Homo sapiens: one gene and its partners. The protein of the gene in region 3 binds, or shares a complex with, the protein of the main gene of each other region. Each region holds a gene or a part of one and is shown on either strand. Other genes may lie near its edges.

The links. Proteins that work in one complex are often made in the same cells at the same time.
Region 1: NUP107 (region 3) and CETN3 share a complex: the UniProt entries of both Homo sapiens proteins name them as parts of the nuclear pore complex.
Region 2: the proteins of NUP107 (region 3) and NUP133 are in contact, whole or in part, in a crystal structure (PDB 3CQG), measured with the Homo sapiens proteins. Residues at the interface, in NP_065134.1 of Homo sapiens: Leu875, Gln876, Ala878, Asp879, Val881, Ser882, Ser883, Glu884, Tyr889, Lys894, Leu897, Arg898, Leu900, Leu901, Gln902, Arg905, Ser908, Leu909, Leu912, Asp917, Pro918, Leu919, Tyr921; in NP_060700.2 of Homo sapiens: Trp937, Leu938, Ile941, Asn942, Gln944, Leu946, Tyr963, Ala965, Lys966, Lys968, Thr969, Leu970, Gly972, Leu973, Lys975, Leu976, Ala977, Leu979, Ala980, Ser981, Asp982, Ile992, Glu999.

Annotation. Positions count from the first base shown.
Region 1 is NC_000005.10:90,406,737-90,413,934, forward strand, and holds the start of CETN3 (centrin-3), read right to left. Parts: upstream 3,021-7,198; 5' UTR 2,926-3,020; coding exon 2,909-2,925; intron 1,099-2,908; coding exon 963-1,098; intron 1-962. UniProt on the Homo sapiens protein: Plays a fundamental role in microtubule-organizing center structure and function. As a component of the TREX-2 complex, involved in the export of mRNAs to the cytoplasm through the nuclear pores.
Region 2 is NC_000001.11:229,484,322-229,491,346, forward strand, and holds part of NUP133 (nuclear pore complex protein Nup133), read right to left. Parts: intron 5,782-7,025; coding exon 5,634-5,781; intron 3,293-5,633; coding exon 3,145-3,292; intron 2,208-3,144; coding exon 2,050-2,207; intron 1-2,049. UniProt on the Homo sapiens protein: Involved in poly(A)+ RNA transport. Involved in nephrogenesis.
Region 3 is NC_000012.12:68,682,310-68,689,978, reverse strand, and holds the start of NUP107 (nuclear pore complex protein Nup107), read right to left. Parts: upstream 3,002-7,669; 5' UTR 2,914-3,001; coding exon 2,906-2,913; intron 1,018-2,905; coding exon 926-1,017; intron 447-925; coding exon 360-446; intron 1-359. UniProt on the Homo sapiens protein: Plays a role in the nuclear pore complex (NPC) assembly and/or maintenance. Required for the assembly of peripheral proteins into the NPC. May anchor NUP62 to the NPC. Involved in nephrogenesis.

The DNA of each region.
Region 1 (7,198 bases), on a different chromosome or scaffold from region 3:
AAATCATTTAGGAAGCTCCAGGTATGAAATAAGGTCCCAAACCAAGATAGTCAATGGTTACAAATGGAACAGACATTATAAAGGAAGATCAAATCTGGGTAACCAAAAAAAAAAAAAAACAAAAAAAACAGTGGGAAAAGAGAGCCAAAGAGGACTGCAAGATTGAGAAAGCTAGACTTAGCAGGCCTATTAACTGCTTTTATACATTCTATCCTGTCACTGCATAGTTCCTATCCCTACTTGGAATTCTAATGCTTAAAAATCCCTTACGAAATTACAAAAATTAAAACTACCAAATAAACACTTACATTCACCTATCCATTAAGGCCATTAAAAATCTCAAAATACTATCTTTCCCACTGTGCTGAAAGTAAGTCCCATTCTACCCTAAACCCAAATCTCTCCTTATACCCTGACAAATAATAATTTACAAATCTCTCCCTACACTTTGACATTCTAGGTCTTAAAGCTGACATTTTTACCTATTAGCATGTGTCAACATCAAACAGCACTAAAGTTGTTTGCACCAGAGAAAGTGGATTGAGACTATGTTACTAACAAATCCAAATTATAAGATTAAAAGACAACACTCCCACAGTCTGAAAACAGTATGAGTCACCAAGAAACAAAAACAAAAACAAAAAACAGTGAAAAGAAGATGGTAAGAATAAATTCCAGTTTGAAATCCTTTAATTATGACAGTGAAAAATAAGCACCTTCCCTGGGAATGTATTTTTACATTTAAAATACTATTCGTTTTCTCATGTGAAAAAGATTTTCTAAAAACTATGTTAGGAGTTCTCTTCAGTTTTATTACAGCATCTAACTATGAATGCTTAAAATGCCTTCATAGTTCCAAAACCAATTTAGTTAAAATAATTATTTAGAAATGTAATGTAAAGCAACTGTAAAAATGCAAATCATTTTAACACAGAAACAAATATTTTAAAGTATACCATTACCTTTAATTCATGATAATCTATTGCTTCATCTTTGTCTGTATCAAATAGTTCAAAAGCATCTTTAATTTCTTGTTTCTGTTCCTCAGACAGTTCTCTTCTTTTTTTCCTCTTTGTTTTGTCCACTACAAGCTCACTTCTATGAAATGGAAAGAAAAAGCCCTTAGTCCACTTTAATTCTCTTTACTAACAGAAATTAGCCAATAATTACCTTCTAAATTTCAAAAAAGAAAGTACTTTGGAGAAAGATAGGGAAACTTTCCCTTTATGAGTCAATGACCTGTTTATTCCATAGTCTAAATTGCTATAAATCTGAACTTCGCAAAACTAAAGAGTGTTACAGATTATTAAAAGAAATGAGGACCAAACTTTTCTTTTTCCCAGCTTTTTATTTATTCCCACTAATGTTACTGTGGAAGAAACAAGAACTGTGAATAAGCAACACTACTTTTATGTCTGAAACTCCAACCAACTCCAACCAAAAAAACAAAAACACGTTATCCTACAAGAATGTTAAAGAATTTAAAAAAAATCTCCAAATGAAACCAAAATTCATAACTGACAATCACTATATATCGGTTTACTGTTGATAGTTCTGATAATTATGTTCATAAAATTACAAAAAAAAAGTGAATTAACTTATACAGTATTTTAGCACTGTTGGTTCAAAATGTTTTTAGATTACACGTTTTTAACAGTTTGGCAATTTATGTGTCATTTCCTCCATTGATATTAACAAACCATCGAAAATATTAATGAGTCTAAACATATGACAAATATTAGATGCCAATATACAATGTTTGTGCTTCATTCTATATAAAAATGTGATGAGTCTTGTCTCATTTAACATGTAAACCGGAGGTTAACTTCTCATAAACTCTGGAAACGCTTAAAGAAAAAAAGCAAAAATTATTTTAAAGCCAGAAATGTTTTCCTTAAGAGCTGCCCATCTAAATGTGCTCCAAATTTTCAAATGGAGCCGCAACACTGGAATAACGAGTTTTGAAACACAATCCGGTAACACATTAACATGTCAAACCAGTTGACTGTACTTAAAACACCTATCTAGTTGCATTTGAAAGTCGTTTTGGTCTCTGAAAGCTCCAAAAAAAAAAAAAAAAAGCTAGGAAGTGACTAGTAGGTGCAGTATAACAAAGCTGAGGAAGATCTTCCTTTCATGAGACCTGACTTGACACAAACTTGGGTATTCCTGGGGTCAGTCTTTTCCTTCCTGAGACTTTTGGAGGCCAAGTCCAGAACCGACCCACCCCTGACCCCATCCAAGGGTACCATGATTATCCCTTAGCAGAACATGGAATATTTTCGGAGTGTCGTAAGTGTATGGATAGTTTTACGGTACAACGTCTACATAGTGGGAGAGGGCAACAGAGGGTTAGAGGTTAGAACTGAAAGGTAAAAAAATGCAAGAAATTTAGGAAATCCAAGAGACAGACTGCCAATTAAAGTCACTAAAATGGGTCTCCAATTACACCGTAAAGCAGGGCCCTGGGAGAAGAGGAAAGAGTTTTTGTTATTTCCAAAATTTATAGGTGGGTGATTGCATTAGCAGCGGAGCAGCCGAGGTGGGGCCCTGACCAGGCACACGGATGAATGAAGGGATGTCCGCGACCTGATCTGAGAAACAAGAGTAGAAGCCTCGCGATATTTCATTCCCACCTCGCTCGCAACTAAGCCCAACCTTCTGGCAGTCCAAAGCCCTACGCGCTGACAGAAATAACCTCCTTAGCAGAAATGCACTGGTCTCGTTCCCTGCAGGGCATCAGAGCCCAGAGGGTGAGTGATCCGGGCAGGCTGCCCTAGGCTCCTTTCCCGCGTCCCAAACTACATCCCCTGCCTCGCCTCGGCCCCAAACGTCCTCCCTTCCACACACACCCTCCCTGGGCCCCGCTCCGGGGTGTGGAGAGCACTGCCGCCTCCTTATTACCGACCTCAGAGCTAAACTCATTATCTCTTCGCACAGAGACGTTCCTCTCAAGAACGATTTTAACCCCCTACCCAAGGCAGCAAGACGCCCACAGCCGTTCAACAGACACGAACGACCTCAGCGGCCTCAGGGACCTCCCACAACATAGACACTTTTGAGCTGGATTGGTTGAAATGTCGCTATGGTTCTGCCTATTAGGGGGCGGAAGCTTTACCAGTTCTATTTTCATTGGGTAGGTTTTACGTCAATCAAGGAAAAAAAAATTTTTTTTCTGTGCCCCGCCCACCTCCTAACGCCCCCCCGCCCCCCCAATCTAGGGCCGCTCTCGCCCTTCGGATTGGCTCGATGCGTTTTTCCCCGAATCCTTTGCGGGTCCGGCCTCCGATCCCTGTGTGGCTGTTTGGCGGGTGGGCGCTGTGTTCCTCTCTCGTAAAGCCGTGCGGTCTGTGGGCCGCCATTCAGAAACTGGATGGACAGCTTCGGCGGTGGGAAGGGAAGGGACATGCTGCAGGCCACCCTCCGGCTAGAAGGAGGGAGTACTTGAGGAACAAGGTCTGCGAAAATTGGCTGTGCTCTGTTCTAAAACTTGGAATGGCCTCAGTACCTGGGGAATGTGTTTAAAATGCAGACTTAAATGTCCGTTTCTCCATTCTAATTTCAGTAGGTATGAATCTGCGTTTTTACTCCTCACAAGCCTTCCAAGTGATTCTGAGGCAGGTGCTGTGGCTGTACTTGGATTATCACAGGGTTAGATTATCAGGCTATTTATGATTTAGCTGTATCTAAACCACCTTTCCCTCTCTTTCCTCCTTTGAACTGTTTGAAACGGATTTGTTCCCTTCTGTCTCTTATTTTTCAGTGCTGTAAGCTGTTAACACACATGAGACTGTCTTCACTACCAAACCAAGTCTCCTAAAGCTCACTTGAATGTCTGCTTATTCGTGTCTCTTACTAGGTTCAATTTCTTGGAGGCCGTGATTATATCTATTTAACGCTTTTCCTTGTACCTAATAAAATGTCTGGTGCGTAGGTGCTCGGTAAATTGAGTGGAATCTTTTGAAAATCCACAAAATACTGAGCTAAACAGCAAATCTCATAAACGTGAATAAAATAGCCTGAGGATGGGAGTTGAAGGCGGAGAATATATAAACATTATATGTTTAAGGGATGTATATAAAATTTTAGAGAAGGGAGAGAACACAAGATATGCTTCTTAAAGGAGGTGACATAAACGTTAGACCTAGAAGGATGGGCTAAATTTGCACAAGGAAAGATAGTATGATAGAATAAGCTAAAAATTAGCTAAGGGATAGCACCCCTAAAAAACAAAAGTGGAACTTTTATTTTGTTCGTATTTTAAATTTTAAAGTACCTTTATAAATCACCTTTGAGTCTAAAAGGAAAGAGAAATTGTAGTTACTAGAACATAATGATATTGAAAAAAACTATATGTTAAAATTTTAAGATACAGACCAAGTTATAGGAGAACATTATTTTAAATAAGAAAGAATAAAAATAGGCCAAGCATTTATTTGAAGATGTTAGAAACGAAGAACAAATTGTATAATTGAAATTAGGAAGAGGAAATTAGTAAAGATAAAGTTTGAGAACAGTGTTTTAAAAGGAAATTGGTAAAATTGATAAAGTACTCATAATCTAGTATAAAGCTGGTTTTTGGCAATACCAGTGAAATTCAAAGACTTATAGGAAGTGTAACAAGAAAAGGAATAGTGCCACTAGTAAGGTTGGTAATTTAATAAAAGGGAGGTTTAAAAATTATTAAAATATTTTATACAATTTTATACCGCCAATAAATATTAATAGAAAATGAAATAGTCACTTTTCAAGGAAAACATAACTCAAAAAAGGTGGAAAACTGAATTAAGTCAATAACTACAGACAGGACTGGAACAAAGATGCCAAAGTTCTGTACTCACAAATAAAAAGCCTCCAGCCCACTCAGATTTATGATTAAAAATCATAAGAGCTAAATCTTGTGCTTTAAACTCAAGTCATAGAAAATGATGGAGAGCTTCTTAGCTTAATTTTTGAAGCTGCCATAATCTTTCACATCCTAAAAGAACATTTAAAGTCACTCAGTGTAAGCTCAGTGATGATGAAGGCTATGCATGTTTCTCACCATTGTATCCCCAGTGCCTGACTCATGTTTGATGTTCATTTGTGAACTTAAGTGCAAAATTCCTAGATGTTAGCAAAGTCAGTTTGATACTGTCTTAAAGGAACATTTCTCTATAACTAAATTGAGTTTTTTTTTGTTAAGTGCAAAGATAATTCAAAATATAAATCTGTGTTAAATAATTATAATGTTAGGTTAAGGAAATCATCTCAGTGTCAAAAAGGCACTGAATAATAGGTAACACCTTTTCTATTAGGATATAAAGTGGGTTTAGAAAATACTTTTTTAAATATGATCGGCAGAATACTTAAACACCAGTGTTTCTCAAACCTCATTCCTGAAACACTAGGATTTTGTGAGATGCTTTTGGTCTCAGAGTGCGTTTTATAAGCAAATAATTTGGGCAAACAGATTTTAAAAGGTTTTCAATAGGGTGTCCTTTTAAGAGAGTGACAGGGAATTTACACGCATCACTTTTATTATATTTAATTAGTGAGAACTAGTGACAACCACTTCTTGCTTCACGGGAGGTTGAGGCAAGAAATCTCTAGATGGAAAACTGCTCTGCTGAAACTTGGGGTCTAATCATCTATTACTAAAGATAAGACAGGTGGTTACACTAATTATATTTTAAACCTAAATTTGATGCAATCAAAATTCTCATATTTTTCTTGAATTGAACAAAGGTATTCCAAAGACCATCTCAACAACAATTCTATAAAAATAACTTACTAAACTGTGAAAAAGAATAATAATACAAAAATTGCTGTATGGGACACTAAAATGTATTTGGTACAATGGTAATCAGACCAGAAATTCCAGAGACAGCCAAATGTAAATAAAAATGTCTGCTTTGAAAAGGTAGTGACATAAATATTTGTTTAGTCTGCCTCCTAAAGCCTTAATAAATCAAGAGTTCCTCTATCACCCACGCTGGAGTGCAGTGGCATAACTCACTGTAACCTCAAACTCCTGGGCTCAAAGGATCCTCCCGCCTCAGCTCCTGAAAAGTTAGGACTACAGAAGCATGCCACCATGCTCAGCTAATTTTTTTTAAATTTTACACTGTGTTGCTGTGTTGCCCAGGCTGGTCTAGAACTCCTGGTCTCAAGTGACCCTCCAGCCTCAGGCTCCCAGAGTGTTGAGATTACAGGAATTAGCTCCCATGCCTAGCCAATAAATTAATTTCTAAAGCTGAAGTGACCTGGAGAGGGACCATCAGCAGACTAGGTATTTAAAAAATTATTGGAAAGATCAAAAGAAATATGGAAACTTGTTGACAAATGAAACAGATCACTGAAGTGGCATCCTATAATTTTCCAGAGATGACTTATGTTTCACAGAGAGTTGATCTACCTAGCAAAGTCCCAGAGAGACTCCAGGAATAGAGTTCCCTTGTACAGTAGAAGGTGGAAATGAGAAGGGGGCTAAAAACAAAATGTCAATTTAAAACCTCTTTAGGAAACCACTGTACTTCAGTTCCTCCAGATTCCTCTCCCCAGTGTTTTGTCTCTTTACATCTATCTAGAACTCCACTCTTTTTTTTTTCCTTTTTTTAGAGACGGGGGTTCTCTCTGTTGCCCAGGCTGGAGGGCAATGACATGGCCTTAGATCATAGCTCACTGCAACCTCAACCTCCTGGGCTCAAGCAACCTCCCACCTTGCGCCTTGGCCTCCTGAAGTGCTGGGATTACAAACGTGAGCTACGGCACGTGGCCTGAGTCTTTAAAATGAATGAAGAATGAAAAACCATCAGAGATATGAAAATCAACAGCATGAAAGATAAAACTAAAAACCATTTCAGGAAGACTCTGAGTCAGCTAAGGAACCAAAATAAAATAATAAGAAATTAATAATAATAAGCTGCCTAAGAAGTACTCAAGAAAATATTAGAGAACAGAATACTCTGAAAAAGGAGCATTGGAGAATAAGAAAAGACTGTTGAAAATAAACATGAATGTAAAAATTAAACTGGCAAGATGATTTAATTGAAAAAATATCACAAAACTTGCAGTATTCAAACAAAAACATGGAGAATTTTGAGAAAAAAATGGAGGACTAATTCATTATTTGACTAATAAGAATTTCTGAAAGAGAGAACAAGAGGAGGAGGAGAAAAATATCACACATTGAAAAGATACTTCGAGGAACTGAAGA
Region 2 (7,025 bases), on a different chromosome or scaffold from region 3:
GTCTTGGCCCACACATAAAATACACTAACATTAATGATAGCTGATGAGTTAAAAAAAAAAAAATTTATGTTTCAAGCAAGTTTACGAATTTGTGTTGGGCTGCATTCAAAGCCATCCTGGGCCGCATGCAGCCCATGGGTTGTGGGTTGGACAAGCTTGGTCCATACCAATTATTCATATACTTATTGAAACACTATAAATAGCATCAAATGATCAACCAAAGTCATACAGAAAAGGTACAGGTAATTCAGGGATTATGTTGTAAGTAAAATAATTTGGACATTTCATCATAATTAACAGAATCTTTTTATAGGTTTGCTCTTACACGACTCATCACAGTGTATACTACCTAAGCATAATGGTTGATTACAAATTTAAACAACGGTTTAGAAAAATTTTAAAGAAATGGAATACTATAAAATTGCTTCAGAATGTATAACAGTATTATAATAACCATACAATTACAAAATAGATATTAATCCTTTTTTGTAATCGTATTAATTACAAAATACAAGGTATTTTGTACTTTGTATAATTTTGTATAATTACAAAATACAAAATGCAAGGTATTAATCCCTTTTGTGAAAAGAAAAAAAAGTTAAAAATTGTTTCTTTCCTTTAAAACTACACTTAATCACTTTAATTTGAATTACAGAGGTAGTCTATATATTTCATACACTATTCAAATGGAAATTACCCCAAACAGTATTAATTATTTTTAGTCTTCTGTAAAAGAATGATAAAAATCTTATGGATAGGATATTTCAGGTTTCAAGACAACAGAATAAAATTGGTAATTTTTACCTGGCTATTCCTCTCAAAAAATCATCCCAGAATAAAAAGAAACAGAAATACAAGCTCCTTGGAAATATCTGTGATACTAACTACAACAAAGGAAGATAGAAAGCAGAAGGAATGGGAAATGGCCCCGCTGACAGGAGATGAGGCCACCTATGCATGGTGCAGAGGACAGGTCCTGAGGATTTGAGGACAATAGAAAAGGGAAGTTCTGGGATGACAGCTGTGCAGATGGAAGGTTTCTGGAGACTTGACTTTGGGAAAAACTACATTGAGGGGCACTCTACAGAACTCCTGGAGTGTGTAAAAAGATTAAGTCACATATGAAAGGAAAGTGAGAAAATACAAAACGAGGTCATTATACACTCCAAGAGTCACACAAAGTTCTATAATAAAGGACATGTAATCAGTATTTGGGATCAGCAAACCATAAACAATATTTACATTGTCATTACAATGAAAAAAATTTATGTTAGAATGATAAAGGCAGAGGAAGGAGTATAAGGTAACCCAAAACCTCATTTTCTGTAGTAGAAAATCAACAGATGCATCAGGAGACAGGAATATATGTACATTACTTAGATATATGGAGAAAAATACCAGAATAAATCACTAAAAGGCTTAAATGTAGTTGCTCCAGGCAAAGAGGACAGAAGGGATGAGGAAGATAAAAAGAACTAATGTCTGCATCATTACGTCTTTGAAAACTGTCTCAGTTTTGAGACCATTTGTATAAAATAATCTGATAAAACTAAAAATTAGGCTGGGCATGGTGGCTCCACGCCAGTAATCCCAGCACTTTGGGAGGCCGAGGCGGGAGGATTCTTGAGCCCAGGAGTTTGAGACCAGCCTAGGCAACATAAGGAGATCCTGTCTCTACAAAAAATAAAAAATTAGCCAGGTGAGATGGCGCATGTCTGTAGTCCCAGCTATTTAGGAAGTTAAGAGGGGAGGACTGCTTGATCCCGGGAGGTTGAGGTGAGGCTGCAGTGAGCTATGATTATGCCACTGCACTCTAGCCTGGGCAACAGAGTGAGACTCTGTCTCAAAAACCAAACCAAACCAAAAAACAAAAAATTAGCCAGGCACCTACTGGGAAGTCTGAGGCAGGAGGATTGCTTGAGGCCAGGAGTTTGGGGCTGCAATGAACTACGACTGTGCCACTGCACTCTAGCCTGGGTGACAGCGTGAGACACTATCTCTAAAAAATAAATAACATAAAAACTTCAAATTCTTATCGAATCACATTACCTCACTGTTTGGTCCAGCAACTGAAGATGCTAAAGACCCTTCCAAGTCTTCTGCCAATATAGACACATTTTCCCTTGAAGTAATAGACACCAGTCCACTGTTTCTAGAAAAAATGATAGGAACACCACCACAGGCACCAGCACCTAAAACACTATCTCCTAAAAGAAAGGAAAACAGAGTCAAATACATCTAACAATAACAACAAAATGCTATGTAAAAGCTACCACCCTAAGCAGAAAATCATCTTGATGATATATTAAGCACATTTTTTCCTTTACAACATTAGTCCTACTTCGAACTCATCCTTTACATCCCAGAATCAAATGCTAAGAACCGGTTGCTATCTGAAGAAGCAGGCTCTGTGTCTTTCAGCTTTAAGGACAATAAAAACTAGCCTTGCCAGACAGCAGTCAGTCTAGTAAGCCAAAAAAGAAAATTATTCCTTCTGCAAAACTCAGAAGAAGAGCTTTTTCAATCCTGTGGAGTTCTCTTAATTCTGACTTTAACTTACCACATCAGTCAATGGGGACTGGAAAAAAAAAAAAAAAAAAAAGGTCTAAGCCTACCTGGCACCTTAGTAACATCCTACCCACCCTCTGTCAAGGTTCTTGTGCTGGGACTAGAAAACCTGGGTTCCATGCTGTTGCCTACCTGCACTCTGTCCTCTGCCCAACCCCTTCAGCTAAGTATCTGCTTGGTTCTTCTTCAATCCTGACCAGCCCCCCTGCATAAGTCCAGCACCTGAAGCTCTTCTTATCTAGGGGTGTGGAAAAGTTAAAGCATCAACTCAGAATATGTCACTTTTACTAACTAGGAATAAGCAATTACTTCTCTTGGCAATAGTTTTTTGCTTCTTGGCATCTTCTCCTGGAACAAATGTTACTATCTTTGTCTGTAAATATAATAGTTTGGAAATTCTAGTACCCTTTTGGTTTCTTAGTAGGGTTATGGCTTCAGCTGCTGTAGTTGTGGTATGAAATGTCTCAGAAACATTTGAAAGCAGCATGCTTGAAGTGACATTCAGGGAAAGAGAAAAAAAGCACTCAGAATGACTAATGAGCTCACCAATCATGCTTTCTAAAACTGCTACTGTACCTTGTGCATTAAAGACAATTTTCTCCTGGGGAAGAGAAAATTTCCCAGTTCCTGTGGAGCACACATAGACAGCACTTTCGTTATACAGATAGGCAGTCTGGTTTGAAAAGTTTGGGACCGTCAACTGACACAAAATCAGGTCTTCAGACTGAAAGTTAAATTTAAGATTACATTTAACAAGAAGTAAAACAAAAATATTTGTATGATTTTTTAAATTCATTTTTGTACATTATTTCATAAAAATATTTCACCAATTCTCTTTGTAAAAATCTGAACACTACCCATGAGATGATTAACAAAACATGACAGAGTAAGTTTATAAACATCAATTAGACATATATTTTGTTGACTTGCTTATAATTTGCTTTTTTAATTTTTTTTTTTTTTTTTTTTTTTGAGACAGAGTCCCACTCTGTTGCCCAGGCTGGAGGGTAGTGGTGCAATCTTGGCTCTCTGCAACCTCTGCTTCCCAGGCTCAAACAATTCTCCTGCCTCAGCCTCCTAAGTAGCTGGGATTACAGGTGCATGCTACCATGCCCGGCTAATTTTTTTGTATCTTTAGTAGAGATGGGGTTTCACCATGTTGGCCAGGCTGGTCTTGAACTCCTGACCTCAGGTGATCCACCCACCTCAGCCTCCCAAAGTGCTGGGATTACAGGCGTGAGCCACCGCACCTGGCCTAAATTGTTAATTTCCAAAATTAACAAATTTGGAAAACATTTCCATGATGATGACTATAACTAGAAGCCTATGATAAATTCAAAGGAGAAAATGAAAGCACTAAAATTCGTTATATTAAGAATTGGCAATTTTTTATAAATATTCCCTGATAAACAAACATTTTTGTTCTTACCTTACTGCCAAGATATTAATGACAAGAAAACTTAGTTGATTTGTTTACATATAAAATCAGAGGGAGAAATAAAAATAAATCTCATTAAATAAAATTAGAATATGCTAAAAATGATAAGCTGTTATTAAAGAAGTAATTTTACAGAAATATTAAATGCGAGGTCCTAGAATTGTTTTTTAATCCTCAAATTCTCTTTATAGTCTTCTGCCCTGGCTGAAATTTTTTCTAACACTGAGCATGTTTTCCACACTGCATAATCAGAACACATGATAAAGTTTATTTCTGTTTGGCATAAAAGAACAAATCAAAAGATTTTCTTACAGGATTCAATTAAACAAGTCATGTTAAGAGTAAGGATCAAAAAAAAAAAAAAAGTAAGAATTTAAGCCAGGAACGGTGGTGCACACCTGTAATCCCAGCTACCTGAGAGGACTGCTTGAGACCAGGAGTTGGAGGCTACCGTGCACTCTGATGGACCTGTGAATATCACTGCACTCCAGTCCAAGCAACACAGCAAGACTTTATCTCTTCAAAAAATAAACAAACAAGGATTTAACAGAATTAGATACTATGTAAGAGTAAATAAAATGAATTTATAGATGTTCAGGTTCTTCCTCATGAATACCAGTTATTAAACATGTTTAATTGCTATTAATGAACTTAAAATTGGAAAGCCTGTCTTCCAGTCATTTACAAGAACTTTGATGACTACAGAACACTGCTGAATACAAATATAATCTTCCTTTGGGTAAAAAGGAGGATTTTTCTATAGTATACAAGGCTCTAAACCAAACCCTAATTCCTACCAGTTTTCTTCCTTCCTTTTTCTTTTTCTTCTTTTTTTAGGATGGAGTCTCATTATGTTGCCTAAGCTGGAATGCAGTGGTTATTCACAGGTGTGAATATGGTACACAACAGCCTCAAACTCCTGGGCTCAAGTGATCTTCCTGCCTCGGCCTGTTGAGTAGCTGGGACTAGAGGCATGTACTCATCATGCCCAGCTTGGTTTCTTCCTTACTTTCACCCTGGAATTAATCAATACCTTCTTTCTACCTAAATACAGACATGACAATCCCTCCAAAGATCTAGAGCAGAAGAAACAAACTGCTTTCTGCTAGTTGCTTCCATTCTCATTTTTCTTTAGTCAAAACTAAGCAAAAGAACAAGCCTGAGATGGCAAAGAAAATGCAACAATGTCTAGAAACAAGCTATTTTAAAATATTTCCAAGCCCTGCAGATGAAATCTGTCACGAAATTTGACCCTGAAATGGGCCACGCAAGGTGGCTCACACCTGTAATCCCAATATTTTGGGAGGCCAAGCTGGGGGAATCACTTGAGGTCAGGAGTTTGAGACCAGCCTGGCCAACATGGTGAAACCCTGTCTCTGCTAAAAATATAAAAATTAGCTGGGCATGGTGGCACATGCCTACAGTCCCAGCCACTCGGGAGGCTGAGGCAGGAGAACCACTTGAACCTGGAAGGGGAGACAGAGGTTGCAGTGAGCTGAGATCAAGCCACTGCACTCCAGCCTGGGTGACAGAGCAAAACTCTTTCAATAAATAAATAAGACCCTGAAATGGTTAGAAAAATACTCAACATATTATTGCTTTGTAATTTAACCAATATAAATCTTACCTGAAAAGGTGGATTATATTGAGTGACTTCTACAGTAACTGCATCTGACATTTGGCAACCATTATCTTCTATTGTTATCAGAGAGTAATAGATGAGACATGGATTGTCTGCTGAGTGCCATGCTGCTGCCAAAATCACCAGCCCATCACTAATCAATAAAAAAGGAAGATGTAAAGCCTCTCTAAAAAACAACTTAGGAGTTTCCTATAAAATTAAACATATGCTTCCATATAACTTAGCAATCCCATTCGTGGACACCTATCCAAGAGAAAATTTAAAAACAGAAACAGAAAACCAATAACTGTGTTCACACAAAAACCTGTGTACAAATGACTGTAGTGGCTTTATTCATAATTGCCTAAAACTGAAAACAACCCAATGTCTTCCAAGTGCTGAATAGATAAACAAACTGTGGTATATCCATACAAAAGAACACTATTCAGTAGTAAAAAAAAAAAAAAAAAATACTGAATGAATTTGAAGTGTATTATGCTAAGTGACAGAAACCAGACTCAAAAGGCTTTACACTGTATGTTCCATTTCTATGACATTAAGCAAAAGGCAAAATATAGGGACAGAAACCACATCAGTGATCTCCAGGGGCTAGAGGATGGAGGGGTCGATTACAGAAAGCACAAGGGAATTTGGGGGGTTATAAAACTGTTCTGTATTGATTGTTACGGTTAAATGACTAAATTGTGTATCTGTCAAAATTTGTAGAATTAGGGCCAGGTGCGGTGGCTCACGTCTGTAATCCCAGCACTTTGGGAGGCCAAGGTGGGCACATAACCTCAGATCAGGAGTTCAAGACCAGCCTGGCCAACGTGGCAAAACCATCTCTATAAAAATTAGTCAGGCATGGTGGCACATGCCTGTTGTCCCAGCTACTTGGGAGGCTGAGGCAGAAGAACTCTTGAACCCGGGAGGTGGAGGTTGCAGTGAGCTGAGATCGCACCACTGCACTCCAGCCTGGGCGATAGAGTGACACCCCATCTTAAAAAAAAAAAGAAAAAAAAAACAACTTGTGGAATTATAAACTAAAGAGGGTAAGTTTTACTCTATATAAATTATAGCTCAATAAATCTGACTTTAAAAAAAGATCAAAACAACCATCTGATCCAGGGATTGGCAAAGTACAGCCCTCCAGTGAAACTGATCTCAAACCAGTTTTTATAAATGAAGTTTTGTTCGAAGGCAACCATACGCATTTATTTATGTATTTTCTAGGGATGTTTCATGATACCATTGGTGAAATAGAGTAGTTGCAGTAAAGACTACATGGCCGCCAAAGCCTAAAACAGTTACTTTTGGCCCTTTACAGAAAAGGTTTGCCAATCCCTGATGTACTCAGTTATTTAAAGCTTACTTGCTTTTGTCCAGAGGAAAAACATT
Region 3 (7,669 bases):
GAACTCCTGGCCTTAAGTGATCCACCCACCTTGGCCTCCCAAAGTGTTGAGATTATAGGCATGGGCCACTGCATCCAGCCTATTTACATACTTATTGTATATATTAGTTAACTTCTCTAAGTCTCACTTTCAGTTTTGGTAAAACAGGGCCAACAATACCCATGTCATAGTTACCGTGTGTTTATGGAAAGTACAGTACCTTGTACATGGCAAGAGTTCAAACGAATAATAACTGCAATCATTATTATTAGTGCTTATTGATATCGTAACCAAATACTATACTAATTATGTTACAATAAATGTTAGTTGCTATTATAATTACCGTTATTATTAAATGCTTTAAAAGCAAAAAATCTTACAAGGCTGTCGAAATGAGCTAGGAGTTCGAGGGATAACCTGGTTTCTTGGTGTAGTATTACCAAAATTTTCATCTTGAGATGCCTGAACTGTACAACGAGTTAAGAAAAGTTTTCCATGTAGAAAAGAGATCACTAAAATGAGAATTAACCATCTTTTTACTATACAAATTATGTGAATACATTTTTCAAGAACAAGTATTTTAGGGCTACCATTTTTCAATGCAAAGGGTAAATAATTCATTGCTTCTGCCATTTAAATGATCAGATGTCAGTCTTAGATAACTACACACTGAACTAAATGTTTTTAGTCAGTTTTCAAATAATAAAAAGAAATCTAATCTCAGCAGAAGCTGTCAGCAGTAAGAAATATCTTTATTTTTAGGGAAATACGATCTCATTAAATTTTTGCATTATATTTACCAAATGACAGCTCTGTGGAGTGAAAAAAAGTTTCTACAGGATTTTATTATAGCTACCATTTAATACTCTTATAAAAAGAAAATTCTACAACACTGATTCCAAACATGTTACAATTTTTATAATGATGCTTAAATCGCAAAGGATACGTAAAACTCTTTTCTGAGCACTCTGTTTCCGTGCAGTCCGTGTCACCTCTGCCTCCCGGATTACAGGGGATGATATCTCTCCAAAGCCACTCCTAAAGTAGTATAATCAAGCTTATATAAGTGAAACGAGAATATAGCATTTATAAAGAATTTTATCATCACAGTTGGAGTAAAGGACCCTGAGTAAGTTAAGGTATAGTCATTCTAGTAGCCAAGTCTTAGATCTTTTGTTGAGAACGCACTCCTGGCTCCAAATCCTGCTTATTCTTCAAAGCCTTACTCAAATCTTACCTGCACAAAGACTTCTCTGACTTTCTAGTACTCACTATGTTATTTTCTCCTAAGGAATTATTTCAACACTTGGAATCTATATTATAACACTGTTTTAGATAATTGCTTCATGAAAGTGAATCTTATTTCCCTTGTTGGATTGAGGAGTTACCTAACTGCAGGAATTCTCTCTTAAAAGATTTTCTGCAGTCTCCAAAATGCTTTAAACCATGGGTACTATTAAAAAACAAACAAACAACAACAACAACAAACAGAGCTTGCAACAACAACAACAAACAGAGCTTGTGAGATAGAAGGGTAAGTAAAAGAATTGTGGTAAATTGGAGCAAAATGACCCTTCAAGTTATTTCAACCCAGGAGGTCTCCTGTCCCATCACAACACTCCCTGTCAGTTTCACTCAAAGGTCTAGAAACTAAATTGTGCGGACTAAAAGGCCTGTGTTTAAGACAAGAATCTAATATGCTTTTCCTCCACTTAAAACCTTCAGATATTCCTTCAGCAGGAAAGTATGGGAAACAACCACATAGAAACAATTTTAAACGTTTAACAATTAAAATTAAAAACAAAAAAAAAAACCTTCAGATAGCTCTCTGGTCTATAGAAGTAAAAATTTCCTAAAATGATATTTACAATGTGACCCCAGTTTAGGGGTTCAGTCTTCTATTCAGCCACAAACATCACTTTAAACGTATACTGCATGTGACCACTGAGCTACACGTACTTTTTTTTCATATCCTAGCACCTCTGAATATGCTTCTTTTACAAAGACCTACATTTGCCCCCTTGAGCACCTGGTCAACAACTACTTACTCCTCAAAGAGCCTCAGGTAGGCTGGAGACACACAGATGCAGGTTGGCAATTTGGTTCTTGTATTTATTAGCTTCCGAACTTTCAGCAAGTTCCTTAACCTCTTTTAGTCTCAGTGTTATATATGAAAAAAGGATAACAGTACCCATCTCATAGGATTTTTCTTGTTCTGAAGATTAAATAAGCTAATAATATATATTCAACGCCTTTAGAACAATGGCAGTCACATAGTAGGTACTCAATGTTTGGAGTACGAATAATGTACTCTTATTATTCAAAGACCAGCTAGAAAGTTACCTTCTTTGAGGGGTCTTCCTGATAGTTACAGTGACAAGGAGACTTAATCGCCCCCAAACACTTACCACTTTACACTGCTTGGTTGTCTCCATTACACAACTAATTCCCCGAGGGGAAGGATCTTGAATAACTGATCTTTGTTGTAGGCGGCTAGCACAGTACCCAGATCATAGAGGGAACTCAGAATCTGATGCTGGCACTTGTAATCAGAAAGTCTGGGCTGAGATCCCAGTATCTTCACTGACTGGCTTTGTGATCTCAGGCTGGTCACTTAGCATTTCGAACGCCGCGCTACCTACCCCGCCCACCCCAGGAGCGAACAGTGTTGCTGCCCCAAAGCGCCGAATAGATCGCAGAACGTAGTGGGAAAGTAAGGGACTATTATGATCTGTACCCCACCCCGACGCACGCCAAGCGGCTTTTTCCCCATTTGTGGCCAAATTTCCCGGCATGGGGAAGGAGCCTTAGGGGAAGCACCCGGGACCTCCTTGGCTTCTTCTGGGAGTCTAGTTTCACCTATTTCGTTTCGCCAACAGGCGAGACGGGCAAGACTTCGGGCTCAGCTGCCACCATCAGTACTGACCTGTCCATGGCTAAAGCCTTTTCCACACACAACCAAAGTTGGCTGCAGTTTAGCTACCGCGTTTTAGCCTTCCCGCTCTCCGGAAGCAAGCCCTTCGACCCGGAAGCAGTCTGTCCCTAAAACAGACCCACAGAAAAGGGGTAGGGGAGAAGAAACAACGTTCCCATCTAGCGCATGCGCGACTTCAGCCTACAGGTGCACGCCCGGTGGGCGCAGGCGCAAAAGTTTGCCAATGTGTTCCTGGTTGCGTTTAGCCCAGACGCCCTGCGGCCGCTTTGCCTGACCAAAGTCTGTGGGCGTGGAACAGGCCCTGGGTTCTCCTACTGGGAAGAATGAAGTATGTTGATAGTCTGGAAAAATGTGAAGTCATTTCCTGGTATTCTCTGTCAGAAAGCGCCTGTTCTTGGAATTCAGATGCGTGGGCTCTGCCCCACACCTCGGGGATCTCTATCTCTCTGCCTACACTCAGTCCTTTGTTCTGTAGCCCCCTGCAGTTTTTGCAACTATTTTCCATAACTGCTATTTGTTCTTTACTTGGTGTTCTTTCCTATTAAGGAGAAAAAGTTCACCTGTATTAAAAAGTAGAAAGGCAAGCGTGAAATATGATGGTATTGCCCTCTATTTCAAAGTGCCGTCTAGGCAAAAAGTGGTGTATTTTGGTCTTGAAGGAGTCAGTCACATTTTTGTTTTGGTTTTTGTTTTTTCCAGTTTGAAAGTAGTGACTGGCTATTAACTGACCAGATTACAAAAATAATGTTAGATGCTTCAGTTTATCCGTTTAATAAGCCTGTTGATATAGTCTTTTCTGTTGCTGGCATTTATACCTTTTATTAATACAAAATAGGTAGTCCTTCATTCTCCCTCGTGGAGAAGATAATTTGAAGGATCACAGGAACTTGAGTTTTTCAACAGCATAGATCTCATGAATCAGATTCTCCAGTCAGATGATGCCATATTTATCAGGAAATCTAGCAATCAAAGCGTTATCTGTTAAGGTAATTTGTTTATTGATTTTGCCATAACCAATTTGTAGATCAGTTCATTTACTGATTTCAGGTTCAGGTACTCCATGTGATATATGGTTCCACAATCCTCAGCGTGTTAACTGAAGCCTTGTTGAGTTTAACAAAGCTGCCATTGAAGATCTGGGGAAAGTGAAGAAGTTGCAACAGAGTTTTGGGCTCACACCATTGATACATTTGATCCTTAAGGCAAGTGACAATTTGGGTTTCACAGGTATATAGAAATTGCCAGCTTTTCTTGCCATATATTTCTTGTGACAGTGCTGAGCTTTTTTTTTTTACTTCTTGCTTGCTTTTTTTTGGACTTGATTTTTTAAATTATGTTTCCTTCCTTCCTTCTTTCTTTGTTTTTTTTTTTTTTGAGACAGGATCTTGTCCTATTGTCCCGGCTTACGTGCAGTGGCACAGTCACGGCTCACTGCAGCCTTGACCTCCTGGGCTCCAGCAATCCTCCTACCTCAGCCTCCCTAGTACCTGAGGTTGCTGGGACCACAGGCACGCACCACCATGCCTGACCTCCTCTCCTCCCCCGTTTTTTAAAAATATTTTGGAGAAATGGGGTCTTATGTTGTTGCCCAGGCTGGTCTCAAACTCTTGGGCTCAAGCCATCCTCTTACCTGGGTCTCCCAAAGTGCTGGGATTACAGGGGTTAGCCACCACATCTGACAGTGCCTAGCTTTTTCATAGATGTAGCTTTCTCCTTGCTTTTCTTTTTCTTTTTTTTCGAGATGGAGTCTCATTCCATTGCCCAGGCTGGAGTGCAGTGGTGCCATCTCGGCTCACTGCAACCTCTGCCTCCTGGGTTCAAGCGATTCTCCTGCCTCAGCCTCCTGAGTAGCTGGGATTACAGGTGTCTGCCACCACACCCGGCTAATTTTTGCGTTTTTGGTAGAGATGGGGTTTCACCATGTTGTCCAGGCTGGTCTTGAACTCCTGACCTCAGGTGATTCACCTGCCTCAGCCTCCCAAAGTGCTGGGATTACAGGCGTGAGCCACTGCGCCTGGCCTTCTCCTTTCTTTTCAAAGCATTTTATGGGCAAACTTCTTTCTCAGGCACTTGACCTTTAGCTCTGTGAAATTCCTTCATGTGTTTTATTTTTATTTTTTGAGACAGAGTCTTGCCCTTTTGCCCAGGCTGGAGTGCAGTGATGCAATCTTGGCTCACTGAAACCTCTGCCTCCCCGGTTCAAGCGATTCTTGTACATCAGCCTCCCAAGTAGCTGGGATTACAGGCGTGCACCACCATGCCCAGCTAATTTTTGTATTTTTAGTAGAGGCGGGGTTTCACCATGCTGGCCAGGCTGGTCTCGAACTCCTGACCTCATGATCCACCCGCCTCGGCCTCCCAAAGTGCTGGGATTACAGGCATGAACCACAGTGCCCAGCCTTCCCTCACATTTTTAAAGGGTTTCTGGCACAGCAGGAATCTTCTTTTTCTTGTCTTCAATACCCTCCATGGTTTCAGCTGGGAAAGAGGAAATCAGTGGAAGTTTTGCCTTAGGCATTTATGTTCTGCTGTAATTCTGGGAAGCATAGTTCCCCGGAAGGCCTCTTCATACCTTATTATCCCCTCTCAGACAACATGGCATTTTGATAAAAACATTGCTTTGGGCTCCATCTAGGTTCAACCCCCCTGCACCTGCAGATTCCTCATCTGTAGAGTGGAGAAAACAATACCTTTGTCAGGGGGTGTTGTGAGGATTAAACAAGATGTCATAGGGAGTCCCTGTCTCTAACATAAGTTTTAAAAATTAGCCACGTGTGGTGACACGTGCCTGTGGTCCCAGCTACTTGGGAGGCTGAGGCAGGAGGATCACTTGATCCTGGCAGGCCGAGGCTGCAATGAGCTATGATCATGCCACTGCACTCCAGCCTGGATGAAAAAGTGAGACTTTGTCTCAAAAAAACAAAACAGACAAACAAAAAAAACAGAGACATCAACTGTATACACTGTACATAGCAGGTCATTGAAATGTTACTTTTCTCCTTTAATAACCTTTCTGAAGAATAATGCCCTGGCATGGTCTCATTCTCCCACCTCCTAATTTTCCTGTATACAAGTTCACTTTTTCTTATGGAAAGTGAAATGTAGTCCTAATCAGAGCTGGGGCAAGTTTATTCAAAGTATGATCTGTGGTTCATGTTCTTGCTCTGTGTCCCTCAGCAGTTGAATTCCAATGAGTTTTATTCGTGTAGTATACTTGAAGTGTACTTGAGGTGATTGACCATGAAGCACACAATAAAAATTAGCCCTGTGTTTGGGGCAAAAAAATTAGCCCTGTGTTCAGTTCATATGCAAAGATGGAAAACTTTTTGGAAAGTGCACTGGGTTTCACTTTTGACACATTTAATTAGTAGGCATGAACACCATAGCAACCCTGCCAAAATTTCAAAACATATTCATTTCATTACCTTAAAAGGATGTGGAATAAATTTCTTATGTGGTGTATATTGTATACATGGTAGCTTTATGTTTAGTATTCTTGGTTGCAATGACAGAAATTGACTATGGTTAACTTAAACAAAAGGGAATTTACTGGAAGCACATCAGGAGATCTTGGAATTGTTAAGAAACTGGAGAAAAGGTCTGGGATAGCACAGCTCCTCAGGAGCTGAAGGCCAGGAAGCGTCTTTCCCAAAGACACTCAAACTCCAACTGTTTGCTCCAGAGCATCCTTCACCTCCCTTATCCCCAACAGCTGAGGCATCAAATATCATTATTTGTACCCCCACCACCCCACCCCAAGTTTTTTTTTTTTTTTTTTTTTGGAAACAGGCTCTTTGGGCCAGGTGCAGTGGCTCACGCCTGTAATCCCAGCACTTTGGGAGGCCGAGGTGGGCGACTCACGAGGTCAGCAGTTCGAGATCATCCTGGCCAACATGGTGAAACCCCATCTCTACTAAAAATATAAACATTAGCCAGGCATGGTGATGGACCCCTGTAATCCCAGTTACTCTGGAGGCTGAGGCAAGAGAATCACTTGAACCCAGGAGGCGGAGGTTGCAGTGAGCCGAGACTGCACCATTGCACTCCAGCCTGGGCGAGAGAGCAACACTCCGTCTCAAAAAAAAAAAAGGGAAAAGAAAAAAGAAACAGGCTCTTTGGATCACTCAGGCTGGAGTTCAGTGGCGCAATCTTGGGTCACTATAGCCTCAGTCTTCTGGGCTCAAGCAATCTTCCCACCTCAGCTTCCTGAGTACCTGGGACTACAGACTCGCACTACCACACCTAGCTAATTGCTAATTTTTTTAATTTATGTTTTTGTAGAAATGGAGTCTCACTATGTTGTTCAGGCTCATCTGGGACTTCTGGGCTCAAGTGATCCTCCTGCTTCGACCTCCCAAAGTCCTAGGATGATAAGCCACCTTGCTCACCCCCTCCCTACTTTTTATTTTGAAAATTTTCAAACCTACAGAAAAGCTTATATAAGAATAGTACAGTAAGGCCGGCTGCAGTGGCTCACACCTGTAATCCCAGCAGTTTGGAAGGCCAAGGTGGGCGGATCACCTGAGGTCAGGAGTTTGAGACCAGCCTGGCCAACATGGTGAAACCCCGCCTCTACTAAAAATACAAAAGAAAGTTAGCCAGGCATGGTGGTGAGTGCCTGTAATCCCAGCTACTTGGGAGGCTGAAGCAGGAAAATCACTTGAACCTGGGAGGCAGAGGTTGCAGTGAGCCAAGATCACGCCACTGCACTCCAGCCTGGGCAACAGAGCGAGACTTGGTCTAAAAAAAAAAAAA